2 linked regions of the Homo sapiens genome follow. The protein of the gene in region 1 purifies or fractionates together with the protein of each later gene. This does not show direct contact. Each region holds a gene or a part of one and is shown in the gene's direction. Other genes may lie near its edges. The genes, in order: CCDC150 and CFAP161.

Region 1 (3,618 bases):
TTGGAGGGTGTTCACCAAATGTCTCTGTCTTTGTATCCTTCCAGTCTTTGAGTATCCAGAGATTTGTGTGTGAAATGACTAACCTGCAGAAAGAGATGCAGATGTTGGCTAAGAGCCAATATGATGCCTCAGTGCGGAATAAACAGCAAGAGCTGCACCTAGAAGCAGAGCGGAAAATAAGGCAGGAGCTAGAGAATCGGTGCCAGGTAAAAGGTTTCCTAAGATTCATCTTAAAGATGGTCAGCAAATGACATGTGCCAAAGCCCAGTAGTTTTGCACCTAGACTTTCTAGAGTCTACAGAAGACAACACACATTTACAAATTGTTTATCTTAGCTAAGTCCTTAGAATAATAGTATCTAGGAAGAAGGCTGTAGTTTGAATATGGCAAATGTTCTCCATTTTCAGTTTAATAAAAGTAATGTCAATTTTTAAAGAACAGCTAGAGCTTACATATGCAAAGTATCAGTTACTAAGTAAGACTTCTGAACTGAATTTCATAGCCTTTCAGGAACTTTGTACACCTCGTTTCTTCTAGCACAGATACACCTGTTGCTATTACAGGACTCTTAGGTATTCCTAAATGAATAAAAAGCATAACGTCTTATCACTGAAAAGGGACTTCAAGAGATCACTGAGCTCTTGTCTTTCAGTAGGGTTTGTCATGAGAAGTATCTCTCCAGTTCTGAAAAGAGATATTAATCACTGTCCTCAACAGACTCCATAAATAAAAAATCAAAATGTGTAATCATATCCACATATGTAGATATGCAGACTATAGGTTAAGCTGAAAATAACAGTTTTTATCTCATATGTCAGTAGCACCTGAAGTTAGAAGGCACTCCATCCTATTTTCATATTTAGTTGCCCATTTATTATAACAGTGAAGCATTTGGTTTCTTATGGTATGTTGGAAGTTTATAAAAATCTTTGTATCACATTTTCAGGAATTGGAAGAAACTGTCAGACACCTGAAGAAATGTAAAGAGGCAACAGAGAATACGCTGAAAGAAGCCAGTGTGGAATCAGAACAGGTGAGCCAGACCCACGGACATAAAGACTTAGACGTTTCCTTCAACACAGCAACCCTGAAGCAACCCAAGTCAATGTGAAATCCTTCATTAACGTAGTTGTCAGGAATGCAACAGGGAAGAACGAGTAACTTCCTAAGTGTAGTCTCTATTGTAGAGAAGAAGTGATTTTTAGATTAAGAGTCTGTGTCCAGATGACAGATGATATATAACAGAATGCTAAAATATTAAACCTGAAGTCCAAATCTCCCTATTAAATATAAGGAAAGACCAGCATGTGTGTGGATTTTAATGCATTATTATTTGACATGACCCTACTGAAAGTGGATGCTCTTTGTTCAATCAATCAATAACTAAAAAAGTAAAGTAGACCCTATTTAACTAATTGTGAATTTTCTTTCTCTATTCTAAACTTAAATTAGCCTTTTGGGGGGTATTTCAAATCATACTTTTTTTTTTTTTTTTTCCAAGACAGGGTCTCACTCTGTCACCAGGCTGGAGTGCATGGCATAATCTTGGCTCACTGCAATCTCCGCCTCCCAGGCTCAAATGATCCTCCCACTTGAGCCTCCCAAGTAGCCAAGTAGCTGGGCATGGTGGTGCACCATGCCCAGCTAATTTTTGGTAGAGATGAGGTTCCACTGTGTTGCCAGGCTGGTCTCAAACTCCTGGACTCAAGTGATCCACCAGCCTTGGCCTCCCAAAGTGCTGTGATTCCAGGTGTGAACCACCACACCTGGCCCATGAACTACTACATTCTTAAGAGTCTTTTGTGCATTTTTTTCATTTTCAAAGCCATCTTTTACCTTCATTCTTAATTTTCTCCTGGGTCCTCTCTTACATTACTTCACATCCAAGAAACATTAACAAATGCATGAAAAGCAGCAAGTCTGCATGCATTCTTTAACCCCTCACTCAGAAATTACTCGCATGTATAGGATGTTAAGTATATTATGCAAATAGGTTGTGAAGAACAAGCAGTCAGAATTTGGGTCTTTTAATTTCTAAGTAAAAAATCTCTGCAACTAATACACAAAAAAACTTGTAACTCTTTCTTTGTGTCTTTTAATGGTGATATTTATATGTTCAGATAACAGCTAATCTGGAAGAAGCTCATCGCTGGTTTAAGCACAGGTTTGATGGTCTACAACTTGAGCTGACAAAAAACCGGTTGCAGAGGCCTTCTGGGGAAGACAGGTGGCAGGAAAAGGTAAGATTAAGACATGGATGTCTTAAGCAATTTTCTACTTGTTGCTTCTCAGATTTCTAATTACCGAAGTTCTCTCATCATCTCGATACTCTCTCTTTTAATCTTTAGTTTCTTTAGACTAATGCTAGGAAACCAATTAATTTCTTTTTTTTACAAAGTTCCACCTGTCACAAACTTTTTAGATTAGAATCACTTGTCTTCATGAATAGATGACATGTGTAGAGGCAAAACAGGTGCAGATTGCTGCAGTTAGCTCTGAACAGTCAGTGTTAGGTGTGTTTTCTTTCCAACAGGACCAAGATGTAAAACATGATGTCATGTCCAACCAATCTGTTCTGCATCGATGGGAGAGAAAACAGAATCTTAGGCCCATGCCCAAGAAGTATCATTCTGAGGTACAGAGGAAGTGATGTCCTTGACAAGGGAGCTTCTTTATGTGTAGCTACACTCCATGATTCCAAGAGCCCAGCAGCCGGGGCTGGCCTGTTTCTAGAGTCATAAGAACATGAAGTCTTTGATGTGGGCTGAAGATTTTGGACCTGAGTTTATCACTTTATGAACTCTTATATCAGTACAAAACTACCCCTTTTTTTGTCCCTTTTCACATTTTCCACCCAATAAATTTGTGTTAATTTGTTGTATGATAGGAGATGGTGTTGCATAATTCTTGTCTGTTTTTCTAATAAGTATATTTTATGAAAAGGCTTTTAGCAAGTTCTAAATGATATTGCTACTAAACGATATATTTTGTTTCAATGAAATGTGCCACTCTAACATGCAGTAGATAATCCCTGGTAATAGAATTGTGTGAAAAATGGTAAAGACTCCTCTACTGTCTTGTAAATTTATGCACTTCTATGTTGGGTAATTACCAGCATATCTTTTAAAGACTAATATCTCTATTCTCAAATAAGGCATTTCAGAGATTATATTTACAGCTTCCTTGGTCATTAAAAAAGTTATAGAATGCAGCAGTCTGTTCTTCTCAGGGAGACTATGCCTGACCAACATAGCTCTTCCTTACTATAGTTAAGCAATAAGCTCATCTTCATCTTTTTATTTCAGATGTTGAGTGGTGGATTAGGTAATCCAGATTTAACATATGTAAATGGCTGGCATAAGACCTGACTTAATTAATACTCAAGTAATCATAGCTGCTGCTGATATTATCAGGACCTAAATCAAGTAAGCAATCATGAAATTGGAAATAATATCAATTATAAGACTGTCAAAGGTTGATGAGCCTACTACTCAATATCTGATAGAAAAAAACACAGCTGAATTTATCACTTACTATATAGTAAGGGAGAAGTGTTGTTCAGGCATAGTCCTCCTTGAGCAGAGCAGACTGTTAATCTCGTAGGTTTTTTGGGAATAT
Region 2 (3,924 bases), on another chromosome or scaffold:
GCAATTGTATAAAACACTATGTATAATTGTATTATTGGGTCTATTATATATAGAAATGTAATATACTTGTCAAAAATAGCACTAAGGAAGTAGGTGGGAGCAAAGCTGTATCAGTGTAAGGACTTACTGAATGACCCAATCATTAGAACCTTGTTAAAAATGTAGAGACTAGAGCTGCTTTGTTTTATTCTTGATTTTATGAGGAATATGAAAAATACTTAAAAGGAAAAACAAACAAACATGACTTTGGAGTCGGAAAGTTTGGACTGAGTCCTTTCTTTGAGCAACTTTTAGCAGTTTGAATTTAGACTGCTAGCTTCTTTGAGTCTCAGTTTCTGAATTTATCAAATGCAGTTAGTGGTATACTATCTGATCTAACTGCTTTGTCCTATGTGTCCTTCAGAAGTATCCTCGAATGTGGTGATATATTGACAGAGCTGGTGGATTCATCAGAATGTGGGAATGTTCCTATTTTTATTCTACACTTCAGCCTGCCAGTTCAAATCCTTCCCAGTTCAGCTCCAAAGCAGCCCCTCTCCCATCACTCAAAGGCCATCCAATTCCCATTCTCACAGTTCCTCAAGACAGAAAGGATCCTTCAACTCCATGGCCCTTCATCAGCATATATATATATATATATATATATATATATATATATATATATATATATGTATTTTTTTTTAAATTGGAGATGGGGTCTCACTATGTTGCCCAGGCTGGTCTAGAACTCCTGGGCTCAAGTGATCCTCCTGCCTCGGCTTCCCAAAGTGCTGGATTATAGGCTTGAGCCACCACGCCAGCCCATCAGCACATCTTTAATTGCATTTTTCCACAGTCTTCCTTAAGTAATTCGTTTTCATGAACTATCTTTTCTTTTAGACTGGGTTTGCTGAAGGGAGCGGAGGCTCCTGTCTTCCATTTCAGTCATGTCTTACTAGACACTAAATAGAGGTAAATTACTGAATGCATTCAATCTGCATCAAGCCTCCGGTAGTCCTACAGTAACTGGTATCCCTCCCCTCCCCAGAAAATAATATTTTGTTTTATTAATGCTGGCTACAGCAGAGTCTGGTTTTCTTAAGAGTTCCTGCAAATCACAGGTTCGTCCTTTAACTTTGAGACCCAGGGAAGGAGGGAGCAAGGGAGGGAGGGAGGGAGGATGCTGTCAAGTCCGCAAAAATATGGACAACCTCAGAAACCTATAAACAGAAATATACTAACATGGTATATTTCTTACTTTTAAGGCCCTGAAATTATTAATTTTCCTTTCTTCTTTCTATGCGATTTTGGTTTCCAAATGTGTACATTGAGCAGGTATTGTTTTATGATTAGGGCGAAATTGCTGCTGCTGCTGCTGCTGCTGCTGCTGCTGATTACAAAAAATAGGCTGCAAGCAAGCCGTGCTTCCATTTAAAAGCTCCTCTTTGTTGCCTCGACAAGCAAGGGGTACTCGATAGCACTTTTCGGTTAGATTCTAATAGAAAGAAAGCTTTAAATTTCTCTCTCGGAAGCACTTTGTCAGCCAGGGTTTTCCCTCTCGCCCACCCTGCAGTTAAGGAAATCTAAGAGGTGGAAGTGGGGCGGGCTGGAGGGCCACAGACAGCCGCTGACCCAGACGCCCCATCTCCCGCCCCAGGGCGAGGGTGCGCGCTGTCGCTTATTGGCCAGCAGGGTCCCAGACCTTGACCAATCGCCTGGGGCCGGGTCGTCATGGCGACGCGCCACGCTAACGCATGGTGTCGGAGGGAGGCCCACTTGCTGAACAGCAGGGAGCGATGGCGCAGAACGTGTATGGTCCGGGAGTCCGGATAGGCAACTGGAATGAGGATGTCTACCTGGAGGAGGTACGCAGGGTGTGGCCAGGCGCAGACCCGCAGCTCAGGAACTCCCAGACCCTGCTCTAAGTTCAGTCTCCTACTTTGAGCGCCTCAAGCCTCCTCTCTCTCCCAGCATACAGCGAATACCTCTAAAATCCCCCACTTCTCTAAACTCCCAAGGAATCTCACCTGCCGAACTGCAAACCCAGGTCTCACTGACCTCTACTCCGAGCACCCTGACTTTTCTTTCTCTGGGTCCCTTGGCCTCCCAAAGTCAGATGCCTTGACTCTCAAGCCCCTGGCCTGTGTCTCCCGCTTAGTCTAGAGCCCCACTAAGTCCCCCGTATTCCTTAGAGTCTTACAGTCTCAGGCTGCGGGCCAGGTGAGGACACAGGTTCTAGGTAGAAATAATATCCCTCCCCACTCCAACCCTGCCACGCTTGCCCTCTTAAATGACCCTGAGTATTCCTTTTATTGACGTTGTACTCACTCACTGCCTCGTATTCTCCCAAGGGTGGTCTTAACAAGGCTTTGAGCCATTCGTATACGGGTCAGATTGGGGAGGGGTGAACTTTCTAGTGTCAGTCATCATACGGTCAAGGGAAACCCCAGCAGGGGAGACATGGCCTCCAAATGTCATTTAGGATGGTATCTGGCTGGAGTAATTACTGGTGATGTTTCTTTTTCTTTGTTTTGCCTTTCTCATTTTTCTAAACATTCTATAATGTAGTAAAAATATTAAAGTAGTGCTAAAAACGTTCCATCATTCCAATTATGCTCACATCTCTTTTTTTGTACTCAAATTTTGCTTTTTCAACTTGGAAGAGCTTCTGACCTAAAAGTTATTAATACTAACATCTATATTATTCAGGGCTACTTTTGTTGATTTTCTGTTTAGGAGCTCATGAAAGACTTCTTAGAGAAGAGAGACAAGGGGAAACTTCTCATACAGAGAAGTAGAAGACTAAAACAGAATCTCTTGAGACCGGTAACTTTTTTTTTTTTTATTACACTTTAAGTTTTAGGGTACATGTGCACAACGTGCAGGTTTGTTACATATGTATACATATGCTATGTTGGTGTGCTGCACCCATTAACTCGTCATTTAACATTAGGTATATCTCCTAATGCTATCCCTCTCCCCTCCCCCCACCCCACAACAGGCCCCAGTGTGCGATGTTCCCCTTCCTGTGTCCATGTGTTCTCCATTGTTCAATTCCCACCTATGAGTGAGAATATGCGGTGTTTGGTTTTCTGTCCCTGCGATAGTTTGCTCAGAATGATGGTTTCCAGCTTCATCCATGTCCCTACAAAGGACATGAACTCATCATTTTTTATGGCTGCATAGTATTCCATGGTGTATATGTGCCACATTTTCTTAATCCAGTCTATCGTTGTTGGACATTTAGGTTGGTTCCAAGTCTTTGCTATTGTGAATAGTGCCGCAGTTGGTGGGACTGTAAACTAGTTCAACCATTGTGGAAGTCAGTGTGGCAATTCCTCAGGGATCTAGAACTAGAAATACCATTTGACCCAGACATCCCATTACTGGGTATATACCCAAAGGATTATAAAACATGCTGCTATAAAGACACATGCACACGTATGTTTATTGAGACCGGTAACTTTAAATTCAGACATTGTTTTCAAAATTCTGTTGAACTTGGTGTGAGTATATGTTAAGCAAGAAAAAAATTTCATAACTGAGTTACCATTTGGAAAATAACAGTTTTTAAAAACAATTTGCAATGTTTTAAATTCTTCTAAGATTTTAGAAACATAAACAGTCTGCCCTAAATCATGTTTACCTGCATTTTACAAATAAAGAAATAAATGAGTTAATATGTAAATAAGTAAAATGCCCCTTAGTTGGTAATCGACAAATTTTTCAATGAATGTTGAATTTCTAGGATAATGAGTAAATCCATGTGATTTTAACCAGCTTTATTCGACTTCATTTGGAATTATTGGGAGCTTTGCCTTGGCAAAGGGGAAGGGAAAGGAAGAAGGAACTAAGGGTTCGAGGGAATCCAAGTGAAATCCTGAATGAAATGGGTACTAGTCCGAGAAGGAAGAAAATTGCCTTGGCAGTAACTGTTGAGGAATT

What was found.
Region 2: the proteins of CCDC150 (region 1) and CFAP161 purify together in Homo sapiens (affinity purification with mass spectrometry, with the first as the bait; one large-scale study listed by BioGRID). This does not show direct contact.

What each region holds. Positions count from the first base shown.
Region 1 is NC_000002.12:196,729,913-196,733,530, forward strand, and holds the end of CCDC150 (coiled-coil domain-containing protein 150), read left to right. Parts: intron 1-44; coding exon 45-206; intron 207-946; coding exon 947-1,033; intron 1,034-2,120; coding exon 2,121-2,240; intron 2,241-2,533; coding exon 2,534-2,650; 3' UTR 2,651-2,889; downstream 2,890-3,618.
Region 2 is NC_000015.10:81,132,555-81,136,478, forward strand, and holds the start of CFAP161 (cilia- and flagella-associated protein 161), read left to right. Parts: upstream 1-1,715; 5' UTR 1,716-1,775; coding exon 1,776-1,844; intron 1,845-2,715; coding exon 2,716-2,805; intron 2,806-3,924. UniProt on the Homo sapiens protein: Microtubule inner protein (MIP) part of the dynein-decorated doublet microtubules (DMTs) in cilia axoneme, which is required for motile cilia beating.